2 separate regions of the Homo sapiens genome follow, and region 2 is linked to region 1. Evidence: fine-mapped expression QTL. A gene starts in region 1. The other region holds a variant in brackets. All regions are shown on one strand. Distances are between the middles of the regions.

The links. PIP is the estimated chance that this variant, and not a neighbour inherited with it, causes the effect.
Region 2: its variant is the best candidate, but not a certain one, in a credible set for the expression of GRIN2D in subcutaneous fat (FUSION, PIP 0.88).

The regions. Positions count from the first base shown.
Region 1 is chr19:48,391,183-48,395,689 of GRCh38, forward strand. It overlaps GRIN2D (glutamate ionotropic receptor NMDA type subunit 2D), which reads left to right and starts at 2,486. Exons shown (of 14, transcript NM_000836.4): 1 at 2,486-2,686; 2 at 3,476-3,754. It overlaps KDELR1 (KDEL endoplasmic reticulum protein retention receptor 1), which reads right to left and starts at 369. Exons shown (of 5, transcript NM_006801.3): 1 at 86-369. The coding sequence starts at 176. RefSeq lists a silencer at 206-525.
Region 2 is chr19:48,419,892-48,423,891 of GRCh38, forward strand. GRIN2D (glutamate ionotropic receptor NMDA type subunit 2D) reads left to right here. Exons shown (of 14, transcript NM_000836.4): 11 at 1,894-2,054. Among named protein-coding and RNA genes, the nearest start is that of GRWD1, 24 kb to the right of the region's middle. The variant G/A (reference allele first, on the strand shown) is at 1,815.

The DNA of each region.
Region 1 (4,507 bases):
CCCCCAAACCCTTCCTGAGTCCTGCGACGTCCCCCAACCCCCGCCCGCAATCTCTCTCCTTCGCCAGCCCTGGTGGGCCTCTCACCGGCGCACGAGCGGGACTTCCAGATTTTGAGCAGTAGCAAGATGATGGCGAGGAGGTGGGAGAGGTCTCCCAGGAATCGGAAGAGATTCATGGCTGGGGAACCCTGGCAGGGCTGAGCGGGAGGGAGGCAGGCTGGCGGGGGGGTGCCCCCCGAGGCTGCTGGTCTGAACGGGTAGCTGGGCTGGGGGGACGGAAGAGGGACCCTAGGTGCGCTCCGCTCCGGGGAGGGGACTTTGGGAGGGGGAGCAAAGGCTGGAGCTGGCGGCGGAGCTGGAGCCGGGAAGAGGGAGGAGAGCGAGAGGGGGAGGAGTCCGGGAGGAGAGGCTCCGCCCCCGAGGGCGGGGCCTGGATCCCCGGCGCCCCCTATCGCCCACCTCCTGCTTTGCCGTGGCGGCGCTAAACGCACCCCCAAAGCTGCCCCATAGGAACTTGGGAGGGTCGCAGGGTTCGGAAAGTGCCAAATCCAGCACCGGTTCGCCCAGGCAGTCTGTGTCTCTGGAAGAGACGCAGTCCAGTACACCAGCCTCAGCCCTTGCAGGGATGTAGAGACTGCCCTCTGAGCTTGAAAAATCCTGCAGGGACCCGGAGGCTCAGCTGCTAGCTTTTGCAGCTTTCAGGCACTCTAACTCCAATCCCCCAGAAGACAAGAAAGATACCCCACCTACTTCCTCCCCTAGACCCAGGACTCAAGGCCCCAGCCCGTTCGTCAAACCCAGAAGTCTGGGTCCCCAGCCCCTCCTCCCTCAGACCCAGGAGTCCAGACCCCCAGCCTCTCCTCCCTCAGACCCAGAAGTCCAGACCCCCAGCCCCTCCTCCCTCAGATCCAGGAGTCCAGGCCCAGCTCCTCCTCGCTCAGACCCAGGAGTCCAGGCCCCCAGCCTCCTCCCTCAGACCCAGGAGTCCAGGCCCCCAGCCTCCTCCCTCAGACCCAGGACTCCAGGCCCCCAGACCCTCCTCCCCCAGATCCAGGAGTCCAGGCCCCCAGCCCTTCCTCCCTCAGACCCAGGAGTCCAGACCCCCAGCACCTCCTCCCTCAGACCCAGGAGTCCAGATCCCCAGCCCCTCCTCCCTCAGACCCAGGGGTCCAGGGCCCCAGCCCCTCCTCCCTCAGACCCAGGGGTCCAGGGCCCCAGCCCCTCCTCCCTCAGACCCAGGGGTCCAGGGCCCCAGCCCCTCCTCCCTCAGACCCAGGAGTTCAGGGCCCCAGCCCTTTTCCCTCCTAGGACGCTGTTCCTTGGAACTTAGGGTCCCACCCCCACCATCTTATGGATCAAACATCCTAACCTTAAGAATCTAGATCTACAGTTTCTCCCTTTACGACCCACAGATTTAGGCCCTGATTCTCTTCTTTTTCAGGAATGTGCACCTCACCCTGTTCTCCCAGACCTTGAGGATGAAGGAAACAGGAGCCTCACCCAGGAGGCTCAAGGCCAAAACTCTGACCCAAACTACCTCAGGAGCCCCTGGCCCTGGCTTCCCCCCTGCTCCAGAGTTTCTGCCCTGCCCACACACACACACCCTCTTCCACCCTCAGAGGCCCCGGTGTCCTGCCCCACGCTCTACCCCAGAGCCCCACGGGTGGCTTTATAAAAGTGCCGGGCCCAGCCCTCTAGCAGGAGGGGAATGCTGGGCATCTGGGTGTGGGACCCCCGGGGAACAGCCTGTGGTCTGGACTCCTGCATCTATGAGGGGACAGACGTGGCTTCCCTTCCGGATGATGGGGTACCCACAGATGATGGAGGCCAGGGTCCCTCAATAAAAGAAGGGGTGCAGGCGTGTTGATTTCTTCAGAGGGCTGGAAGGACGGGGTGCCCAAGGGTGACATCCACGAGTCTTGGGTCCCTGAGGGTGGCTTGTACGGGGGAGAGTCGGGATGACTGAGTCCTTAAAAGAGACTCCGACTTGGAGGCGGTCCCCAAATTCCTGGGTCCCAGTAGAGAAGGGGACTCCTGGGTCTGAGGGAGGAGGGGCTGGGGGGTGGGACTCCTGGGACCAGGGTCGAGACCTGGTTTTCAGGCCTGGCCTTCTGGGGCAATAAAAGCCACAGCTTGGGTCTTAGTGTGGCGAACACTGAAGTCAGGGAAAGGCCTCCTGTTTCCAGAGCCTCAAGGCAGGGCGGGGGCAGAGGGCAGCAACCCCCAGCCCTGGAGTCTAGCTCTGAAGCTGGTGTCTCCATACCGGGTTCTGAGTCCCTGCCTGCCTGTCCCCAGCCTGACTTCTTCCTCCCTTTTTATTTTCAGCCCCTCACTCCCTTGTCCCAGGAGGAAGGCAGAGGCTGGTAGCTAGGGGTGGGGGGCGGCCCCCTCCCCAAGCCTGGCAGGAGAAGGGGTCCCCAGGGAGGCCAGGAGGGGGGGCTGTGGGTCTCCCGGCAGTGGCAGACGGGGACTGAATGTTAATCGCATCCCGAGTGAGTGTGTGTGTGCGAGAACACAGCGAGTGTGTGAGTCCCTCCCGCTCCAGCTCCTCCAAGCCGCGGCCGCCGCCGCCACCCTCGCCCGCAGCCTCCCGCAGCCTCCCTCGGCCACCGGTGCCTGCTGGGGGTGTTGCCTGGGTAGGTCGGCCCGGCCCCCAGGGGTCTCTCGAGCGTCTGCCATCTGCCCGGTGAGGATCTGTGTGTCCGGGTGTCTGGGGCTGGCTGGTGGAGGGGGGGTGTGTCTGTAAGCGCTGCGGCGGCGGAGGGAGGGAGGGGTCTGTCTGTCTGTACCGACCCTGAGCTGCCTGCCTGGGTGTCGTGGGGCTCCCGCTCCTTCCCCCCGGCCCCCCCAAACCCAGATGGATGGTGTGTACCTGGGTTCTGTGCCTCCTGCCTGCGTCCGGCCAGGCGTCTGGGCGTCCCCGGCTGCCTGTGTCCTCCTGTCTGTCCAAACAGCCCCTATCAGCAGTGGCAGCCTGGCCCCCATTAGACCCCCCACTCTGTGTGTGTGTGTCTGTGTGTGTGTCCCTCCTCAAGCTCTGGGGGTGTTGAGGGGGAATCCCAGGGAAGTGAGATCGTGCGTGTGTGCGTGAGTGTATGTGTGTTTCTGCCTGTGTTTGAGAGTGGGGGAGTCAAGGGGGGGTCTAGAGGTGGCCAAGCGAGGAAGGGGCAAGCAGTTCCCCAAGCAGGCAATCTCCCGCTCCTCACACGCACACACCAGCCACTAGCTTCAGAGGTGACCCAGACAGACAGATAGACACAGACGCTGGAAGGGGGGGTGGGGGGGCTGAGGGCACAAAGCGGGGGTGCGAGTGAGCCAGGGAGAGGCGGGACTGGACACATGGAAAGGGGGGAGGAGCCGGGGCTGAAGCGGCAGAGGGGGGCACCCCGGGTGGGCGGAGGGGGGATCCCCACGGGGTCGGGGCGGCAAGAGGACACCCCGACAGCCTCTGCAATGTCCGGGGCCCAACTTCCAGAGCAACATGTGTAGCCACGTCCTCGCCTAGTCCAGGTGGCCGCAACCTTGGGGGAGAGACAGGGCAGGACAGGACCAAGGAAGAGGAAGGAGAGACGGAGCCAGGGACAGACAGGAGGTCCGGGCTGCCGCTGCTGCCGCCACCACCACTGCCGCCGCCCCGGGGCCTGCCCCCCGACATCGGCTCTCTGAGCCCTCCTCGGAATCTTGGGGTCGCTGGACGCCGGGTTCCGGTCCTGGCCCCCCCGCCATCCCCCCAACAGAACAGGGTCATGAAAAGGTAAGGCGGGGACAGGGGATGCAGGGATGGTGGTGGGAATGTGGACCCCCAAATCTAGGACAGAGGAAGTTGGCAAGAAGCCTCGTGGAGGGAGGGGGTTTGAACGGTGGGCAGGGGTCTTGACCCCCACCTAGCTCCCCTGTCCCTCAGGGACTCTCCTCCACCCTCTCTCTCTCCCTCTCTGAGCCCCTTTTTCCTGAGTCCCTACACCTCAGACCTTTCACGCCCCCATTTCTCTGACACTTGGCTCCCTCTCCCCATCCCCACATACCTGATGCCCCATATCCCTGTGCCTCCATCTCTCTATCTCACCTTCTCCCTGTACCCCCCTCCCTGCATCAGTCCCCCCATCGCGAGCCGGTCCTCTCCCTCTCTCCTCTCGCTCTCCCCTCCCATGTCAGAGCTATGAGTCTGCTATTAATACCCCCGCCAAGGACCTTGAGGGCATCCAGGCCCCCAGCACCCCTCGCCCCAAGCTCCCACCCCTTCCTCAAGGTTCTGGAACACCCTTCCAGCCTCTTCCAAGCATCAGGATTCGGGTGGGGAGAGACCGATGTTGTGTGTGTGTGTTGGGAGGTGAGGGGGGAGGAAACGGGATGCCGTCTGCAGCACAACTCGAGGTTGTGGGGGGAGCTGTTGATCGAAGTGGCCGCTCCTCTCTTCTCTGTTGGATGCTGTGGGGGGCAATGAAGACAGGGACACCCTAGGAATTTCTGGCACCCTCCTCCTCCTCCCCGCTTGGGGACAGGCTGT
Region 2 (4,000 bases), 28 kb after region 1:
GGGGATTCTTGCGGGGGGCGGGGGTGAGAGGGGTGGGGGGAGGGCGGGAAGGGGTCTCTTCCCAAGGAGAATTCCAGAATGGTAGAATGGAATGTTGTGGATGAAGAAAGAACACGGTTCACGATGAGCTATTTAAAATATTCCTAGGGAAGAGGGTGTCCCTGAATGTTCTAGGGGCAGTTGTGTCAAATAGGATATTCTAGAACCAGTGCTTCTCTCAAACTGTGAGGAAGGATTAATTTTTGAAACTTCTAAGGCTGGGCGCGGTGGCTCACACCTGTAATCCCAGCACGTTGGGAGGCCGAGGCGGGCGGATCACGAGGTCAGGAGATCGAGACCATCCTGGCTAACACGGTGAAACCCCGTCTCTTCTAAAAGTACATAAAATTAGCCGGGCGTGGTGACAGGCACCTGTAGTCCCAGCTACCCGGGAGGCTGAGGCAGGAGAATGGCGTGAACCCAGGAGGCAGAGCTTGCAGTGAGCCGAGATCGCCCCACTGCACTCCAGCCAGCGCGACAGAGTTAGACTCTGTCTCAAAAAAACAAAAAACTGCTAGTCCATTGCAGACAATGCTTTTGTAAAATTCAACGGAAATGAATTATTAGAAAAGTAAAATAAGATCTAAAACCAAGACAGACAAAAGTCAAACCTGGCCAGGAACGGTGGCTCACGCCTGTAATCCCAGCACTTTGGGAGGCCGAGGTGGGTGGATCACCTGAGGTCAGGAGTTCGAGACCAGCCTGGCCAACATAGTGAAACCTCGTCTCTAATAAAAATACAAAAATTAGCCAGGCGTGGTAGTGGGTGCCTGTAGTCCCAGCTACTTGGGAGGCTGAGGCAGGAGAATCGCTTGAACCCGGGAGGCGGAGGTTACAGTGAGCCATGATTACGCCACAAATAGAACTGATTCCTAGCCTGGGTGACAGAGCGAGACTCTGCCTAAAAAAAAGCCAAACTCACATTTTTATTTATTAGATTCAACAGACGAAAAAGAATTCTGTCAAATCACTCTAAATGCTCACTCTCTCCATTCCTGTACACATCTCACTGCAATCACCGTTTGTTGAGGGACTGGTGGTTTGCAGAGCATACTTTGAGACTAAAGTGATTAACTAGCTGGGTGTCATGACCTATTAGAGGCTTGAGAAATCAGTTTGATGGGTTGCAATAAGCATTTTTTAATGGAATGGAGTAGAATAGAATAGTTGCCTGCATCTTATGTATAAGTTTGGTTTTACAAAACTTGTTTTAGTTGTCTGGGCGCGGTGGCTTATGCCTGTAATCCCAGCACTTTGGGAGGCCAAGGCGGGCGGATCACCTGAGGTTGGTAGTTCGAGACCAGCCTGACCAACATGGAGAAACCCCATCTCTACTAAAAATACAAAACTGGCTGGGCATGGTGGTATGTGCCTGTAATCCCAGCTACTCGGGAGGCTGAGGCAGGAGAATCAGTTGAACCTGGGAGGCGGAGGTTGCAGTGAGCTGACAGTGTGCCATTGCACTCCAGCCTGGGCAACAAGAGCAAGACTCCGTTTAAAAAAAAAAAAGTGAACTATTTCTGAACGGATTGGTAAATAGCAACAGCTCCCAGCTCCTGCCATGCCAGCCTCTACTCCCAGGACCTCCCGCGATTCAGTAAGTGAAGACTTAACACCTGGCACATCAGGGGCCTCAGGGAGGCTTCTCGTGAACTTTTGGATCACGTGTCTGCAACCGTGTGTGCTGGGTGGGAGTGGAAAAGCATTCCCTAATGTAGTGAGCGAGTGTTGAGAAATATTGAACACTCCTGGGACTGGGGTGTCTGCCAGATAGC[G/A]GGTGTGTCTCAGAATGGGTGATTTATGTTAGGGATGTCCCTGCGGAGGGTGCCCTAATCACTCCCCATTCTGCCCCAGTTCCAGAGGCCCCAGGAGCAGTACCCGCCCCTGAAGTTTGGGACCGTGCCCAACGGCTCCACGGAGAAGAACATCCGCAGCAACTATCCCGACATGCACAGCTACATGGTGCGCTACAACCAGCCCCGCGTAGAGGAAGCGCTCACTCAGCTCAAGGCAGGGTCAGCGCAGACTCGGGCCGGGGGTGGGGGTTGGGCCGCTGGGGACCTGAGGATGCTCAAAGATGGCAAGGGGTCCAGGTTCATTCATTCAGTCCCAGAGGTCAGCCCTGGGTGGGTCAGCTTGGAGGGCGGAGGTCACTGAGGGTGGAAGTGGACTCCTCCTCCCAGGAGCAGGCTCCTTGGGATATTTTCTGGGATGCAGTATTTCTGGATTCTGGGGTGAGACTGATGGGGCTCAAATCTTTGCTCTTCCCCTTCTTGGCTTTGTGACCTTGGGCAAGTTACTCAGCCTCTCTGAACCTCTGTTTCCTCCTCTGTAAAATGAGGATAACAAGAGTATCCCCACTGTAATGATCATAAGGTTGTTACAAGAATTATACTAGTAAGCCGGGCACGGTGGCTCATGCCTGTAATCCCAGCACTTTCAGAGGCCAAGGCAGGCGGATCACAAGGTCAGGAGATCGAGACCATCCTGGCCAACATGGTGAAACCTGGTCTCTACAAAAAATACAAAAATTAGCTGGGCGTGGTGGCACGCGCCTGTAGTCCCAGATACTTGGGAGGCTGAGGCAGGAGAATCGCTTGAACCTGGGAGTCGGAGGTTGCAGTGAGCCGAGATCATGCCACTGCACTCCAGCCTGGCGACAGAGCGAGACTCCGTCTCAAAAAAAAAAAAAAGAATTAAACTAGTTAGTCCACTCAGAACATTTATTTATTTATTTAGAACAGTGCCCGGTGCACTATAGGTGTTTGCTGATATTATCATTATCATTAGACCTGAACTCACTGGAATCAATGCTTAGATTGTGTTTCTTATCTTTTTACATCCCTTTCCCAAATCATAGGGATGAAGTTAAATTCAGAGGCCAGGCGCAGTAGCTCACGCCTATAATCCCAGCACTTTGTGAGGCGGAGACGGGCAGATCACTTCAGGTCAGGAGTTGGAGACCACCTGGCCAACATAGTGAAACCCCATCTCTACTTAAAATACAAAAATTAGGCTGGGTGCGGCAACAGGCTCTTGGGAGGCCGAGACGGGCAGATCATTTGAGGTCAGGAGTTTGAGAACAGCCTGGCCAACATGATGAAACCTTGTCTCTACTTAAAATACAAAAATTAGCCGGGCGTGGTGGCGGGCGCCTGTAATCTCAGCTGCTTGGGAGGCTGAGGCAGGAGGATCGCTTGAATGCAGGAGGCGGAGGTTGCAGTGAGCCGAGACTGTGCCATTGCACTCCAGCCTGGGCAACAGAGACAGACTCCGTCTCAAAAAGAAAACAATACAAAAAAAGTTGAGTTCAGGCCCCAAAGTGCAGCCCACGAATACAACAAGGCTGAGCACAGTAACTCTCTCCCCGTCCTGCATTTACTCAGTCCTTCCGTGTGCATTTTTCTTATCCTCTGCTGTACGCTAAGCGGTGAACAAATAGACCCGATTCCTAGGTCTAGAGGTGGGAAATGAACAATAAACATGCAAACAGAAAAATCAAGATCTCTTCAGAAAGTGATGGTGAGCTAGAGGGCGGCAGGGCTGGGATATTTTCACCAGGGTGTTCAGGGTGGGCTTCTCGGAGGAGGTGACATTTGTGCAGAGCCCTGCAGGAGGTGAAAGAGCTAGCCAGGTGGACTTCCGGAAGCAGAGCCTTCAGACGGAGGGAACAGAGTGTGCAAAGGGCCTGAGGAAGGTGCAGTGTTGGTTTACTGGAGGAACAGCAAGAAGGCCAGTGTGGTTGAAGGGCAAGGAGCTGAGGTGAGAGAGTAGATGAGGGGAGGATTCTGGGCATGAGGCCAAGGTCAGGGCTGGACTTTATGCTAAAGGCGGTGAGAAGCCTTGAGGTGTGGAGATTTTACGTAAGGAAGGGTATGATCTGATTTCTGTTTTTGTTTGTTTTGAGACAGGATCTCACTCTGTTGCCCAGGCTGGAGTGCAGTAGTTCGATCTCAGCTCA